Regions from separate parts of the Homo sapiens genome. Here region 1 is linked to region 2. Evidence: fine-mapped expression QTL. A gene starts in region 2. The other region holds a variant in brackets. All regions are shown on one strand. Distances are from middle to middle.

What was found.
Region 1: its variant is fine-mapped to the expression of MAP3K20 in aorta (GTEx, PIP 0.97).

Annotation. Positions count from the first base shown.
Region 1 is chr2:173,135,577-173,143,916 of GRCh38, reverse strand. All of the region lies in intron 2 of MAP3K20 (mitogen-activated protein kinase kinase kinase 20), which reads right to left. Among named protein-coding and RNA genes, the nearest start is that of MAP3K20, 64 kb to the right of the region's middle. RefSeq lists an enhancer at 4,554-4,723. The variant A/TAAAA (reference allele first, on the strand shown) is at 3,914.
Region 2 is chr2:173,070,756-173,079,095 of GRCh38, reverse strand. MAP3K20 (mitogen-activated protein kinase kinase kinase 20) reads right to left here and starts at 3,250. Exons shown (of 20, transcript NM_016653.3): 1 at 3,094-3,250. RefSeq lists silencers at 2,686-3,425, 3,506-3,555.

The DNA of each region.
Region 1 (8,340 bases), 65 kb before region 2:
GTTTAATGCTAATGTAAATAATTTTTTTTTACATTGTCTTTAAAATCTTTGCTGCTAGTATATAGAAATATAATAAACTTGTTTCCTGTAACTTTGTTAAATAAATTGATCAGTCCTAGTATTTGTTTTGTAGATTTTTAAAAAATTTTTTATGTAAACAATCATTTAATCTGCAAATAAAGACAGTTTTACTTCTTCCTCTCCAATCTTAATGCCTTTTGTTTCTTTCTCTTGTCTTACTGCACTGACCAGGATCTCTACAGAACAGTGAACAGAAATCATGAGAGCAGATATCCTTGTCTTACTCCTAATCTTAGGGAGAAAAACATTCAATATTTCCCCGTTGAGTTAAAATGTTAGGTGTAGGTTTTTTGGCAGATCCCTTTAAAAGACTGAAAATTATAAAAACTTATTTTATGATCTATCCTGGAGAACACTCCATGTGCACCTGAAGATAATGTATATTTTGTAGTTGTTAAGTATAATGTCTCAGTTGCTTAGGGGGGGATATTTAAAATTTACAAATGTAATTGTGAATTTGTCTATTTCTTTTTCTAGTTCTATCAGTTTTGCTTCATGTATTTTGAAGCTCTGTTATTAGGATAAATATTCATTTATGATTGTTATATCTTTTAAGAAACTGACTTTTTAAATCATCATTATTAAATCATTTTATCTTTAGTAATACTTTTGGTTCCTGAAGTCCATACTGTGTCTGATATTAATAGAGCCACTACACCTTTATTATGCTTTCTATTTGCATACCCCTCTTTTCCCATTTCATGTTTTTACTTTCAACAGATCTGTGTCTTATATTTAAAATACACCTCTTGTAGATAGCATATAGTTGGGTCTTGTTTTATTTTTTTGTTTTTTGTTTGTTTCTTTTTGAGACAGGTTCTAGCTCTGCTGTCCAGGCTGGAGTGCGATGGTGTGATCACAGCTCACTGCAGCCTTGAACTCCTGGGCTCAAGTGATCCTCCTGCCCTGGCCTCCCAAATTGCTGGGATTAGAGGTGTGAGCCACTGTGCCTGGCTGGATCTTGCTTTTTCATCCAGCCTAGCAATCTCTGCCATTTAATTGGGGTGCTTAATTCATTTATACTTAATGTAATTATGTATATTACTGGGCTTAAGTTTACTATCTTGGTTTTTAAAAATTCGTTCTATTTGTTTTTTGTTCCCCTGTTTTTCCTTTCCTGTCTTTGTTTTAACAATTTTTTTCTTAGTATATCATTTTCATTCATTCATTGGCTTTTTAGCTATACCTCTTTTGTTTTGTTTTTTTGTGGGGGTAGGTAGTGGTTGCTCTAAGAATTCAACATATATTTTTGCCACAGTCTACTTAGATTTAATTTTGTGCTACACATAAAATGTAAGATGCTTGCTCACTTCCCCATCCTTTGTGTCATTGTGATATATATATACTACTTTTTTTTTTTTTTTGAGACGGAGTCTCGCTCTGTTGCCCAGGCTGGAGTGCAGTGGCACGATCTCAGCTCACTGCAACCTCCACCTCCTGGGTTCATGCCATTCTCCTGCCTCAGCTTCTTGGGTAGGTGGGACTACAGGCACCCACCACCACGCCGGGCTTATTTTTGGTATTTTTAGTAGAGTCAGGGTTTTACCATGTTAGCCAGGATGGTCTCGATCTCCTGACCTCATGATCCACCCGCCTCGGCCTCCCAAAGTGCTGGGATATAGGCGTGAGCCACTACGCCCAGCCATGTGTTATATATTTTAACGTACATACATTATACAACCCATAATATAACACTGCAACTTTCCTTTTAGCTGTTGTCTTTTGAAGAAATTAAAAGAATTTTTAAAATGATCATTTGTATTTACCCTAATATTAACCATAACTAAATCTGCTGGCAATAAATTATCTCAGCTTTCATTTATCTAAAAATGTCTATTTCATCTTCAGTTTTGAAGACTATTTTAAGTGGGTATTGATCTCTAAAATGGCAGTTATCTTTTTTCTTTTGGCATATTACAGGTCATTCCACTGTCATTTGGCCTCCATTGTTTCTAGTGAGAAGTAACTGGTATTGCTTCCTTTATGTAATGTGTCTTTTTTTTCTGGCTGTTTTTGACATTTCTCTTTTCATCAATGATTTTTAGCAGTTTAACTATGATGTGACTGAGTGTGGTGTTTCTGGTTTTCATTTTTAATTTATCCTGCTTGGGGTTTTCTGAGCTTGCTGGAACTGTAAGTGTATGGTTTTCATCAAAGTTGGGGCACTTGAAGTCATCATTTCTTCACATATTTTTCTATCCATCCCCTCTCTCTCTCTCCTTTCTTTCTGTGATTCCATTAATGTATATTAGATTGACATTGTCTCATGTGTAACTGCTCAATTTTTAAAATTTTTTTTGTTTGGTCTTGAGATTTGATAAATTATATTAATCTGTCTTCACATATACTGACCTTTTCTTTTGCCTTCCTCAATCTGCTGTTAAGCCCCATCAGTACAATTTACATTTAAAGAGACTGTAGTTTTACAGTTCTAGAATTTTTAGTTTCCATCTTCCTGCTGAATTACTGATTCTGCTCTCTCATTCTAACCATGGTTTCCTTTAAGTTCTTGAACATGTTTATAAAAGCTGCTTTGTAGTCTTTTGTCTGCTAATTACAACTTCACATGTCTAATATGTTTTACTTCACATGTCTAGTTTTTCTAATAATACTACACGAGAATTTAGTATAAAAAGTAAATGTGAAGTAAACAAATATTATTTAAATACAAAATAAAAAAGTTATTAAAAGGAATGTGGTAGCTCTACGTGTAGTCACATAAAAAAGTGCCTCAGTATACTAAGTTCAAAAAGTAAGTTGCGAGGTGATTTACAACTTACACATTGGGACACGTTTTTATGATATATATACATATAAAATATCATAATCTAGTTTTTTTAAGTTTTTACTTTGAGATAATTATAGATACACATGCAATTATAAGAAATAATACAGAGAGAACCTATATATTTTTCAACCAGTTTCTCCCAATAGAAATCGACATTTACACAATCCACCAACTTTATTCAGATTTCACCAGTTTTATATGCACTCGTGTGTGTGTGTGTATATGTTTAGTTCCGCATAATTTTGTCATACACGTACATTCAAGTGATTCCTACCACAGTCAAGATACAGGAAAATTTCATCACAAGGTTCCCTCATGCCACCCTCTTCACATGATCCATTTTTATGGGGGGAATAGTATTAGCGATAGTTATAAATACAGAGAAAAAAATACATCTGGGCTGGATGCAGTGGCTCACACCTGTAATCCCAGCACTTTGGGAGGCCAAAGCGGGTGGATCACCTGAGGTTGGGAGTTCGAGAACAACCTGACCAAAATAGAGAAACCCCATCTCTACTAAAAATTCAAAATTAGCCGGGTGTGGTGGTGCATGCCTCTAATCCCAGCTACTTGGGAGGCTGAGGCAGAAGAATCACTTGAATTCAGGAGGCAGAGAGGTTGCGGTGAGCTGAGATTGTGCCCCTGCATACCAGCCTGGACAACAAGAGTGAAACTCCATCTCAAAAAAAAAATCTGGAAAGTTACTCACAAACTAATGATTTTAAAGTATAGGATTGTGGCTGGGCGTGGTGGCTCATGCCTGTAATCCCAGCACTTTGGGAGGCTGAGGTGGGTGGATCACGAGGTCATGAGTTTGAGACCAGCCTGGCCAACATGGCAAAATCCCATCTCTACTAAAAATACAAAAATTAGCTAGGCATGGTGGCACGCGCCTGTAATTCCAGCTACTCGGGAGGCTGAGGCAGGGGAATCGCTTGAACCCGGGAGGCGGAGGTTGCAGTGAGCTGAGATTGCGCCATTGCACTCCTGCCTGGGCAACAAGAGTGAAACTCCATCTAATAAATAAATAAATAAATAAATAAA[A/TAAAA]TTAAGTATAGGATTGCAGGGAAGGAAAACTGCTTTTTTACTTTGCATACTGCTGAAATTTCTTGTTTTACACTGAACATGTATTACTTTTTTAACATAAAAATTTAAAATCTAGGAAGTAAATATAACATGGAAATATGTGGGTGTAAGTATAGCAGGGTCACAGTAAACAAATGGCTATGAATAGAAACTTTAAAAAGAAACATGATACTGAGTGTGTAAAATAAAATATTTAGGAATCTACTTTTCGTTTACTAACTATATCCATATTGGTTCCTTTACTTAAGTAAGCACTGGTCATTTTTTATTTTTGGAAGAGATTCCACCAAGCAAGAAAAAGAACTTAAAAATTCACAGAAAACTAAAAAGCTAAAATAAATGAAGTTATTTTACTTATAAGTAAGATAACAATCAGGGGGAAAGTAGGCACCTAATAAATGTCATTTTGTAAGAGTTTTCTGAAGAGTATAATTTTAATGTTGTTTTTAAAATCATATTACAGCATTACATTGATCCTTTTATCCTTGGTCCAAACAAGCACTGTTAGACAGCATATGGTATAGACTCAGAATAACTCAGAGAAGAACTTTCTAATAGTCAGTTTCCCAAAGATAAAAGGGACTGGCCCAGGAGGCTACTGAGTTCTCCTTCATAAGCAATCAGAATTCAAACAGGAGGTAAATGCCCATTTGTGGCAGTAATGTTTCGGAGGACATTAAGGCATCGGAAATATGGTCAATTAAAGTCCTTTCCAAAGCTGAGATTCTATTATGAGTAGAGCACACACTGGGTCCAAAGCCAGAAAAACCTCAGATTAAGCACTGTACTTCTCCAGTGTGCTTCTGGGAATCATACACACTTGCTTCATCATTTGCAAGGAAATAATGTAAGTAACAGTGCTTTACAAATGGCAAAGCACTGAGTAATATTATATACTATCATTTGAGGATACCAAGTTCAAACGTTAACAAAAGTTACTTAAGCCAGCCATTAAGCAGAACTTCTGAATGGTGAGTATGATTGAACCCACTTCCAGACAGCCTGTGGACTTTTAAAAACAGATACAGAATTCGCAGTGTCTGAAATGACTTAGCTACAATCTTGATCTAGAACAGCAATTCATGTGGTACTATGGCCCTAGCTGATAGAAGTACCAGATGAAGAAGGAAAACAAAATGACCTTTTGGTGCTAATGTTAAAGTGTTATCAAATAAGTGGCTATCATTCAGGAATATCAAACCTTCTCTCTTGTCACAAGCATCCAGTAGGCAGTTGAGTATCATTTAAAAAGCAACAGACACAGAGGGAACCTAACAGGGTGTAAGAGCTCCAAACCAGCAAACCAAAGACCTGGGCCCTTGGACTGAATCTGTTGCTACTGAACATCACCTATCTGAACTTCAAATTACTGATTGTTAAAATGAGGGCTTGGGGCTGTTGGACTAAAATAGCTATTAAAATTTCAGTTTGTGTATTGTATTCGATTTCTAAGAGAACAGAACTTTTCACAATTATGTGAAAACCCACCTGTTAAGCAAAAAACCTACACTACAGTGTCAATCCTTCATCATCTTTCAAATCTTCCCCATATTACAATGCTATGACTGTGTACAAAATATCCAAACCTTAACACATCCATAATTAGGAGTTCAAAACACACAAAATAGAAAAAGTGCATATTTCATAATCATGGACACTTTCAGATTTTAAACATCCCTTTAAAATCACAAGTATTTGCCAGGCACGGTAGCTCACGCCTATAATCCCAGCACTTTGGGAGGCCGAGGCGGGCGAAACACGAGGTCAGGAATTCAAGATCACTTTGGCTAACATAATGAAACCCCGTCTCTACTGAAAATACAAAAAAAATTAGCTGGGTTGGGTGGCGGGCGCCTGTAGTCCCAGCTACTTGGGAAGCTGAGGCAGGAGAATTGCTTGAACCTGTGAGGCGGAGGTTGCAGTGAGCCGAGATCACGCCACTGCACACTCCAGTCTAGGCGACACAGCAAGATCCTGTCTCAAAAAAGAACAAAAAATCACAAATATTTATTAATCTACGTGTCTTTTCAAATAAGCTACTTACCTGGAATAAATGAGGATGGTTAAAGTAGAAAGAAATTGCTAGGTAATTGTTCAAGTAGATTTTTGTGGCTTGTATGGTTGAGGATCACTTTTACTTTCTGTTACTTAAATGTTGATGCCCACGTGTCAACAGCACTAGTATTAGGAAATTTTATGTGGGTTACAATTAAAGCCAGTACTTTAAAAACTGTAAAAATAAAATTTCCTTCCATTTCTGCTCATAGATTCCCTTTTCTTTTTTGGGACACACAGATTCTCAAAAGAATATTTTATAAACTACAATAAGAGCAACATACCTATTCACAGGAAAAAGGAAAAAAAGAGAGGGAGAGAAAAGAGACAAAATAAAACATGCACACTTCTTACTCATATGTAATTACATACTAGACAATTTCTCTTACTTTAAAATTACTCAACCAGAAAAAAAAAAATCTTCTCAAGCTGACATTTAAATTAAAATGGATGCTTCTGTCTTCTGCATTCATACTTATACTTGCCTTCCCAAACAGAGAACATAGGGTATTTATAATTCTCTTCTGTACACATCTACACTACACCGTATCTCTCAGTAACAAGGTGACTACCAAGGCACAAAAGATCTAATAAGCCATAATCACTATTATTCTTTAGTCCAGGTGTTTTGGCAGATTCCTAGTCTAGATCCTGACAGTAAATGGGGAATTTTGCATATATAAATTTTAAGGTAAGTCATTGTGACATTTAACCATTTTTAAACAGATTAAAGAGCTTAATCAAATCTAACGCTTTAACACTCGCCAGCTACAAACACACAGGAAAGCATGTTTTCCCACGTAAAGTTCACAAACACAGCCATCAATCCTTTTTAGGTCAGGAGAGAAATTGAGAAGACCAATCTTCCAAAAATTTTCATCGCTACTCTCCCTAAAAAGTGGTGCTTCTTGCAAGAAAAGGATAGAACAAAGATCTTAATGTTGCAGGTTTGAAAGACAACCACATCAAAACCAGGTATAGTGGTCCTAACCTAAGCAGCTGGCAAACTGCAGGATGGATGTGGGCACTCTTCTGCCTAATAAAATCTGAATCAAACACTTTGCATCTGATTCTCTATGTGAGCTTTTATGCAAACTTCTAAAGTGCAAGGAATCCTGGGGTGGAAGAGCTATTCTGAGAGATTTCACATAGTTCATGTAATTAGGGAAACCACTTCCTTTGATTGTGAGTGTTCAAAACAGCTGAATTTCTCCTATCAAAGGCACTCTGTGATTTGGGTCACCTCTTTTACGTTCTCTTTCATGTTCCTCAGGATGAGAGGTGAAGCCGGAGAGCACATTATTTAGGGGAAAAAAGATCTTGCTTTTTGTTTTAGGGATTGAACTTGCACTATTCAAAAGATTGTCATTTAGAATCTTCCTTTCTTTCTCACCCTCTGCTTCTTTCCTTCTCTGTCGAGGCTCTTCAGGCACTGCAGAGAACACAATCCAAAATGCCAATTTAAAGCTGATGGAAAACTGTCAGATTGTGTGTAAAAGAATTCTAATTTTCATGTTTGGGTTTAAAACATAATTAGAGTTGTAATCTGCAGGCTCTTGATCTCCATATTATGCATTTTCTGTTATGACAGTGACTAAGTCAAAAAGAGGGAAAGAAACATGAACGAACAGGAAAAAGGAGCCCCACACCCCAAAAATCACATTCCTCCGTGCCATCAGCAAATGCTGTAAAAAGAAACTGCCACTCTATTCTTTCCCTATATTCCTGGGGTATCCTTTTTCCCTAAAAGTGGAACACAGGCTATTCAACAAGGTGGCACATGCTGCTTTTGTTACAGCTAATTTTAGCATTGATGTTGTTAAGGTATTCAGTACAACTTATTCTACAACACCTTGGTCAGTGTAGCACACAGGTTTGTCAATGAATATCTAAACTAAAAAGCAGTGAAAAATAATTCACTATTTACCAACCACTTAGATGCTCACATTTCTACTGAGTGTTTAAAGCAAGTCTAATAATCTATATGCTACAATCCCTAAGATTTTAGTTAATTTAAATTCAGTTAATTAAAATTATACATGGTTAATAAAAACTGGTGATACTAAGTTGTCACTCATATCAAGGAAAAGGGTTTTGAAGCATATGAAAAAATGTGATAAAATTGTCTAGAGTGATAATGATATCTCCTGCATTCATTATATTTGACATTTACAATTCAGAGAAATATAACTGGGCAGAAATTATCCCCATTTTATAAGTGCAGAAACCTAGTCCCAGAGAGGCTGGCTGATTTCCCAAACAGCAAAGGAGGAAAAGATCTAAAACTTTAAACACAGAAGAATAGGGTATGATCTCCTTCATTCAGGATTCTA
Region 2 (8,340 bases):
CACGCTGTGGTATTTACACAACTACAACATCACGTAACAACACAGTTCTCTCAGAACGTATCCCCATCATTAATGGACACATGACTGTACTTATCCTTAGGAAGCAGGTACTACTGTTCCTAACTTACATGAGTGAGAAAACTGAGGATCAGGGGTATGAAAGTAGCTCAAGCCAACTACCTTACAGGTGACACAACTTGTGTCAAATTCAGGCCTGACTCCAAAGTCATATCATTGTTTTCTACCATATCATGTCTTTTTGTTAATAACATTCTGCCTCCTCCTTCTAATTTGCCTTTTGTTTACCCTATTTAAACTATTTTCTTATTACAGTAATTACTGGATTGCTCACCATCCACCTAAAGTTCAATTTGAGGCTTTAATTTCCTATTACAATTGAAGACACTGGGGTTAGGGTGTCAAATGTGGGGCTGCTTTGTTCTCACAGATTCTTCTACTGTGCTGGGATTACTTAACAGCTATTAGGACGATGCTTCAGCATCCGTAGGAGGGTCTGACATAAAAGCACCCATGTATCAGTCGAATCAATCTAAGCTCTAGCATTCATAGTCCTCTTCCCTTACCAGGTACAATTTTCTGGTCACAGCTGGAACTCTGCTTATTTGTGTCTAGTGGGGCAAAGTTAATAGCTACCAAAAAACTAGCCTAAATCTTCCTTGCAGTAAGACCAAAAGGTGCCTTAACTGTTCCTACTACATTTAGATAGACAAGATACTCACCCTGTCAATCTGTCCTGGGTAGAATAAAATGGAAAACAAGTGATCTAAATTCATTTTTATTTCCAACATCTCAGGATACAGACATAGGGCTATCTTATTCCAAGAAGTATTATATCCCCACAAACATCTTTTTCCAGTTTAAACAAAAACAAAAACAAAACAAAAACAAAAAAACCACTGATTCTCTCCTCTCTTCTGAATCTACCACTTTCTAAAATAAACTGTCCATTTTGCTCTGTCACTCCACACTAATAGCTTCACCTTACATCTGACTTATTTTCATGAAAAGTTTTCAGTGTTTTCTCTGATGATTCGATTATTCACTCCACGCCCCCACAAACCTATTTATAATTTTGTAGCCCTATCAAAGTCAGTTTCACTGCTCATTCCAGATAGGCTCTGAGCCAATATATTGCCAATAACACTCACTCTTGTGCTAAGTTAAAATACACAGTGCAACTTGCCAAGTTTCCTTATTTGGCAAGAAGGCCCCTTAGTTCCCAAGATCTTTGACCATCCATTTTTAGATCCAAGTCCGAGTGTTTAATATTTGGATTTTTTTTTCTCTCTTTACTGTGTCCTTATATATTCCCTAAAAGATTAAGAAAAACGGATCAATCATCTATTTGCTTTTTTAGACAACGGAGAAAGTCCTTGCAATTGCATCATGGTCATTTACTCTGGAATTATTATCACTAAATTTTTTTATTTAAACAATATTTTGTAGTTAAAAAACTCCCCAAATAATCTCAAAAAGTTATAGTAGGAATTAAATTGTGATAGATTAAAATAAACAGTGCAGTGGTCCAAAAGACCATTTTTCTTTATCTTAATTCTGTTTTCCCAAACTAAATTCGTATTCATTTACAATCTCCTAAATCTCTCACTATAGTAGCAGGAATTTAAAACAAAGACTCTACAAATGACCATAACCATAATTAAAATGCAGCCATCACTTTTTTTTTTTTTTTTTTTTGGAAAATTGAAAAACAAGTGAAATTTCACTGTGGAGATAGGCCTACTACAAAGAGGACATTAACTAGCCTTGAATCACTTGTTTATTTTTGTCTTTAAACGTGTTTGGAGGTTTGGATCCACTAAATCCTAGCTGTTCATTTCAACGAAGGTCGAGGAAGCAAGAAGGCTCTTCCAAAACAGCTTCGGGGTTAAAGAAGGAGTACAGTTTTCAACAATCTTAAGTCAAACATCCTCAAATTCACTCTGTAAGACGATTCTCACACACCAGTATCGAGAGCTGCTTACTGTACCATACTTGGAATGGGCCCCTAAATTGTGTTGCTTTCATTATTACAGAAACTAACAAAAATAGTAATTAAGTTCCCCATAAACAGTACTTATGCGCGATCTCAAAGCGCATCAGAAACATAACATTTTCAGCGATCTAACAGAGATAACTTTTTAAAAAAATTTTTTAGGCAATCGGATGTCATCTAGCCAGTCCTGAATTAAAGTTTTCTGAAAGCTGTCATGGGCAAGCGAGGCCAGACGAGGCGACGGCCTGGGTAAGCACTTCTGGGCCTGGTGCAGGTCTGGGAGCCCACAAAAAGCCGCTGCCTGAGGGTCGCCAAAGGAGACATCCCCGGCTCCGGTGGGAGGAAAGGGGGAAGCCCGAGAGGGCGGGCGCTTCATGCTGCCCAAGCCCGGGGCAGGAAGGGCGGGGAGCGGTGGCTCTGGATACATTTACGCATGTTTTTAAAACTAATCTTTAGTGTTCATTGTTCCTGCTGGTTATTCGCATGGCCTAATTGTGTGAGGAAAACAGAATGAAGGAAAATGGATGGGAAGCAACACCGCTCGCGGTCGAGTTCTTAGAAAAGCAGAAGTTCGTCGTCCCTCCTCGCACGCACAGCGAGTGCTGGGAAGTGGCCTGCACCCTACCCTGATTTGGGGGCCTCGCGGTTCGCCTCCCGACAGTGCCCCAGTCACCCGCTGCTTGGCCGGCTCTGCTGCTCGCGGAGCCCCTGCCCGTGCCGCACGCCCGGGACCGCGAAAGCCGGGGCCGCTCCGGCCTGCGCCCGCGCCTCCAGGCGCCAACTTCTCCATGGGACCGGCCCGAACTCTCCCGAACCGCACTTGGCGGCGCCGCGGCCAAGGTCCCGCGAGGACTTCCCGGGCGCCGCGAACGCTCGCTCGCTCGCCCGCCCGCTCGCTCCGGCCGCCGCCGCCGGGCGGGCCCTGGGTCGGGGAGGGGAGCCCCGAGGAGCCTCCCGAGGCCGCCTAGACTCCCGGGCTCCGGCGGAGCCTCGGCCCCGAGACGCAGGGACGACTCGCGAGCGCGGCGGGCCTCGCCCCCTCCCTCCCCGCCCTCCGCGGGCTCCAGCCTGACCCCTACCTGGCTCCCGGGCGGGGCGTGAGCAGCAGCCGGGGGCGCGGAGGCCCCGCGCGCGACGAGGGCGGCGGGGGTTGGGACGACAGCGGCCCGCGCGGCTCCCACGTTTCCGCTGCAGTTAGGAGTTGAACATTCCGCCTCTCTGCACGGCGCCAATGAGGAAGACAGTCACGGCAACAGCACCACCTACCTCCCGGCGCGAAACGGCTGGGCCGCCCTCCCCTCACACGCGCGGGCGAGCGGGGCGTGGGGAAGGCGCTCGGGCCTCCCTGGCCTGCGCCCGGGGGGCACCATCCGCCCCGCGCCCCGGCACCCGCCGAGGCCCCCAGACACACCTGCCTTGCTGTGGGGGGAGGGCCGTGGGGGTGTTCCCCCTCGCCCCCAGCACCTTAACTCATCTTTTTGACAAATTAACACCACCTGCTACTCCTTCAACTCAGTCTTCAACAAACAGGCGCTGGGGACGCAAAGAAATAGAGGCTGTTTTGTGCCCCGCAAGAGTTAATTCTCTAGTTGGGAAAGGCACAAACGTAGAGATTTCTGGGAACATAGGTCTGAAGGCTGCCTCTCTAGAAAGATCAGTAGGTACCTCTGGAATTTTGAGGAGGGGCCGTGGTCTGCTGCTCTAGTTGCTAATTTTAACAGAGCAGAATTCAGAAGAGGAGCCAGAGTCCGTTACAGGCCTAAGCCAAAGGTGGAGGTGGGCGTTGGGAAGAAAAGAAATTTCTGATTGGGGAGGATGGTTCTGTGAAGGAAAAGTGAGAGGAGGTTGCAAGGGCATGGGCAACATTATTCAGGATTTTGAATTTGAATTTTATTATCCATGGACACTGGGAGCTGTGAAAAATTAGAATCAAAGGGGTGAAATGGGGGTTTGTGATTCTGTTTAAATGGTAATTTTGAGAGAGTAGTCCACAGTAGTTGTAGGTTGGGTTGCTAGGATGGAACCAGGATGAGTAGTAGATATTGTCACCACCCGGTTGTGGGATCATGAGGACCTGAGTTAGGATGTAGGAAATGGAATTAAAAAGAAGAAATGGGCTGGGCATGGTACCTGTAATCCCAGCACTTTGGGAGGCCAAGCTGAGAGGATTGCTTGAGACCTGGCTGGGTAACACAGTGAGACCTCATCTCCAAAAAAATCAGAAAATTAGCCTGATGTGGTGGCATACATCTATAGTCCCAGCTACTCGGGAGGCTGAGGTGGGAGAATCGCTTGAGCTGGGGAAGTCGAGGCTAAAGTGAACCACAGTCGCGCCACTGCACTCCAGCCTGGATGAAAGTGAGACTCTGTCTCAAAAAAAAAAAAAAAAAAAAAAAAAAAAAAAAAAGAAGAAATGGAATTGAGAGAAATATTAAACGTTTCAGCAAGAGGCCACAGAAATTGGTAACCCACAAGATTTAGAAGAGAAGAAGAAGAGAGATGATGCCAAGATCTCAGACCTGGATGACTGGAAGAATGATGGTGTCATTGACAAAAATAGGAATACGTGAAAGGGAAGCTGGCTTCATGTTGAGTTTGAGGTCATAGGAGTAAAAACAGGTAGAGATGCAGCAACTGAAATATGAAACTGAAATTCAGGAAAGAGGTCAAGAGTGAAATAGAAAATTTGTAAGTCATTCAATAGGTTAAAGATATGAAAGTTGAGGGATGAATGAGTAGAGGTTAAAAAACAATTTATTAGTCTGATTAATTTGCCCTTTGATAAGGACTGGAGATTTTAGCATTAATAAATTTTATTTTGGTAACTGAGAAATTAGAATTGATGAAAATTGCCATGCTAAAAAAATGTATAATGCAGGTCTAATAAAATAATTCAAATAATTCCATCCTATCCATTCAAGGAAAAACTAAGGCTCTTTAGCATAGACCCCAGGCATAGGAAGACTCCAGTCATTTTACCTTACCTTCAGAGGCACTTGTTTGTTTTGGAAAGGACCCTAGACTGAGAGTCAGAGAACCTGACTTCTGGTCTTAGAGCTACCAGTTATCAGCTAGAGTGCTTTGCAGGATAGGCCACAGTTTCCTCCTCTGTAAAATAAGAGGGACTAATTAGAAGTTAGTTGCAGGTTCCAGCTTTAAAACCATGAATGTATTGCTTTAAATTTGGAACACATGGCTTAAGAGCATCAATATTTTTAGCCACATTGCCCTTGCTTCCCATCCCTTTGCCTTCATTCTGTTTTCCTCACATAATTAGGCCAAGAGAATAACCAGCAGGAACAATGAACACTAAAGATTAGTTTCAGAAACATGCTTAAATGATAATCTAGTAGACATTTTCTTGTCTTCCCAAATAGGTTGCAAGCCCTTTGAGGTCACATCTTATATTGTGTGGTATCTGCATATGTATTGTCCATAGCTGAAATAAATATATAATGATTGTATGATAAACTGATTGCCTCAAGTTTGGTTTTTCTTTTGTCAAGCTGCCTGTTTCCTATTGATTATACTGATCTTTTTAGGCCCCAGACCTAATAAATATGGTCTAGTATGTATTCTCAACACCGACTGCTTTTTTGAACTTTCAAATCTTTTTTGAATTGGTTAATGCTCACCAGGCAGAGTTTAGGTTTACCCGTGTGAAAAGCAATAACAAAAGAGACCTAGTCAAACTTCTCTTATCAAACCTGCCTATTCCTTTACTTCAAATGTTTCCACACTAAAAATAGATGTACTCTTAGCAGTGAGGTGGCTTGGAAGTCCTTAGCACCCTCTTATATCCAAGAACATTCTCCAAAATAAACATGCAATCTAAGTTGAAAAATATAAATATAGCTTAAGGAAAAACTTTCCTATCCCCCTATTCAATGGGACTGTTTCTTCTAAGCCCCTCTTCAAATAGATATTCTGAAACTGCCACTAGCTATCAGTGGATGAGAAAAGTGCAGACATAAATTCTACGAATGGCAGAAGGAATGGCAACTTAAAAGGAAGAAAGCAGTCTTTATCCTCCCCTCCTCTTATAGTGGTAAGAGTTATGGCACAAGCTGGCACCCAGGGGCATTTTCTCTAGCCGTCTTAGTTTTCCATCTTAACTTGTGAATAGTCTATGCCTGGATCATAGCTAAGAATTACCCAACTTTTATGCAAAGACCAAGGCTTTACCTCCTGTACAACTCTGAATCCCTGGGAAATTAAGGTATATAATCAAACATCCTTTAAGTCATTTAACCATTGCCTTAAAATCATAAATGAAGCCCAGATCATTGTTTGAGTTTAGTGTTTACATCTAACTTGAGGATCAAAGAGATTTACAGGAATATGCAGGATATCGAGCTTATTTAGGCACCCTGGGACATGAAAGGAGCGGTGTGGCAAGAAGACATATTGAAGACTTTTACAAAATGTATTCAACAGGCATTTACTGACTGCCAGGCACTGTGCAGAGCTTTATGATTATAGCAGTGAACAAGCATGGTCCCCTCTCTCACAGAGTTTTCGGAGTGCAATGGAAGAGCCAGCAAAGACACGAGCAATTACACTATGGTATGCTCTTAAAGGGGCAAAGATTGGGGCTTACAGCAGGGTACCTAGCATAGTTTTGAGAGGTCAATGAAGGCTTCTAAATCAAAGAAGCTCGAAGTTAATACAAGAAGAAATGAAGAGGATTTGCTGGACAAAAAGGAGGGAAAGATATTCCAGGCAAAGGAAACAAGTGCAATGGCCTGAGAGCATTTAGCAAGTTCAAAGAATAAGTTCTTCATGTATCTGAGTAAAGACATCACCAGCAGGGAGTAATAGCCCTCATAGTAGTGGTAACAGTAATAGCAGAAGCAATAATAATAATAGATGGTTAATATTTACTGAACAGTCATACGCCATGCACTGAATTAAGAGTTTTACACAGACGTCTTCCCATTTAGTCTTCACAATAACCCTAGCAGGTAGTTTTAAGTCATCATCCCATGCTATGGGGCCAGAAAAAGTCTTGGAAAAGTTGGGCAACTTGCCTTCCCTCAGGGAGCAAAAGGTAGACTTTAGGCTTGTTTTTTCAAATCAAGCAGTTCTCAAACTTTTTGGTCTCAGGACTCCGTTACACTCTAAAAAAGTCATTGAGGATGCCAAATAGCTTTTAAGTGAGTCATATCTATCAAATTTATTATATTAGAAATTAAAGCTGGGCACGGCGGCTCACGGCTGTAATCTCAGCACTTTGGGAGGCTGAGGCAGGTTGATCACAAGGTCAGGAGTTCGAGACCAGCCTGGCCAACATGGTGAAACCCCGTCTCTACTAAAAATACAAAAATTAGCTGGGCCTGGTGGCAGGTGCCTGTAATCCCAGCTACTCGGGAGGCTGAAGCAGGAGAATTGCTTGAAGCAGGACTTGGGAGGCAGAGGTTGCAATGAACTGAGATGGTGCCACTGCACGCCAGCCTGGGCTACAGGGCAAGACTCCGTCTCAAAAAAAAAAAAAATTAGAAATTAATCCATTTAAAAATAATAAGCCAATAAGCCTATCTATGTTAACATAAATAACATTTTAGTGAAAAATAACCATTGCCCCAGATTTTTAAAAACTGAAAGAATACCATTGTTTTACATTTTTGCAAATCTCTTTAACGTTTAGCTTAGTAGACAAAAGTTGGATTCTAATATCTGCTTCTGAATTTAATCTATTCCAATATCATACTACATATATCCTCTGGGAAATTCCACTGTACACTCATGAGAGAGTGTCAATATTTTTATGAAGAGTTCTGACCTTGCAAACCCCCCAAAGGGTCCCCAGGCTGCATTTTGAGAACTGATATTTTAGAGTCTGAAGGGAGTTGGTTGCCTTGTTCTCTGCTTCAAGACGCAGCGTAACAGGGCAGCTGCATCAAGCAGGGAAGAGAGCACTTTGCTAAATGGCAGAAAATCTGGGATGTGGTGCCAGCCCTGTCCTTAAACAACTGTCCCCTCCTCGGGACCATACTACCTGATGGTCATGTGGGATGATAAAGTCCTACATATCTGAGTCTTGAGTCCTAGTCACTGCTCATTCTTTACTATTGTTTGCCATGCTACTTTTCTTTAAAATGCTATATCTAAACTTTGACTGAATCATAACTGAGTTTGTCACATCCATTCAGCATTGAGCCTTCTATTCTTTTTTTTTGAGACAGAGTCTCACTCTGTCACCCAGGCTGAAGTGCAGTGGCATGATCTTGGCTCACTGCAACCTCCGCCTCCTGGGTTCAAGCGATTCTCCTGCCTCAGCCTCCTGAGTAGTGGGGATCACAAGTGCAAGCCACCACGCCTGGCTA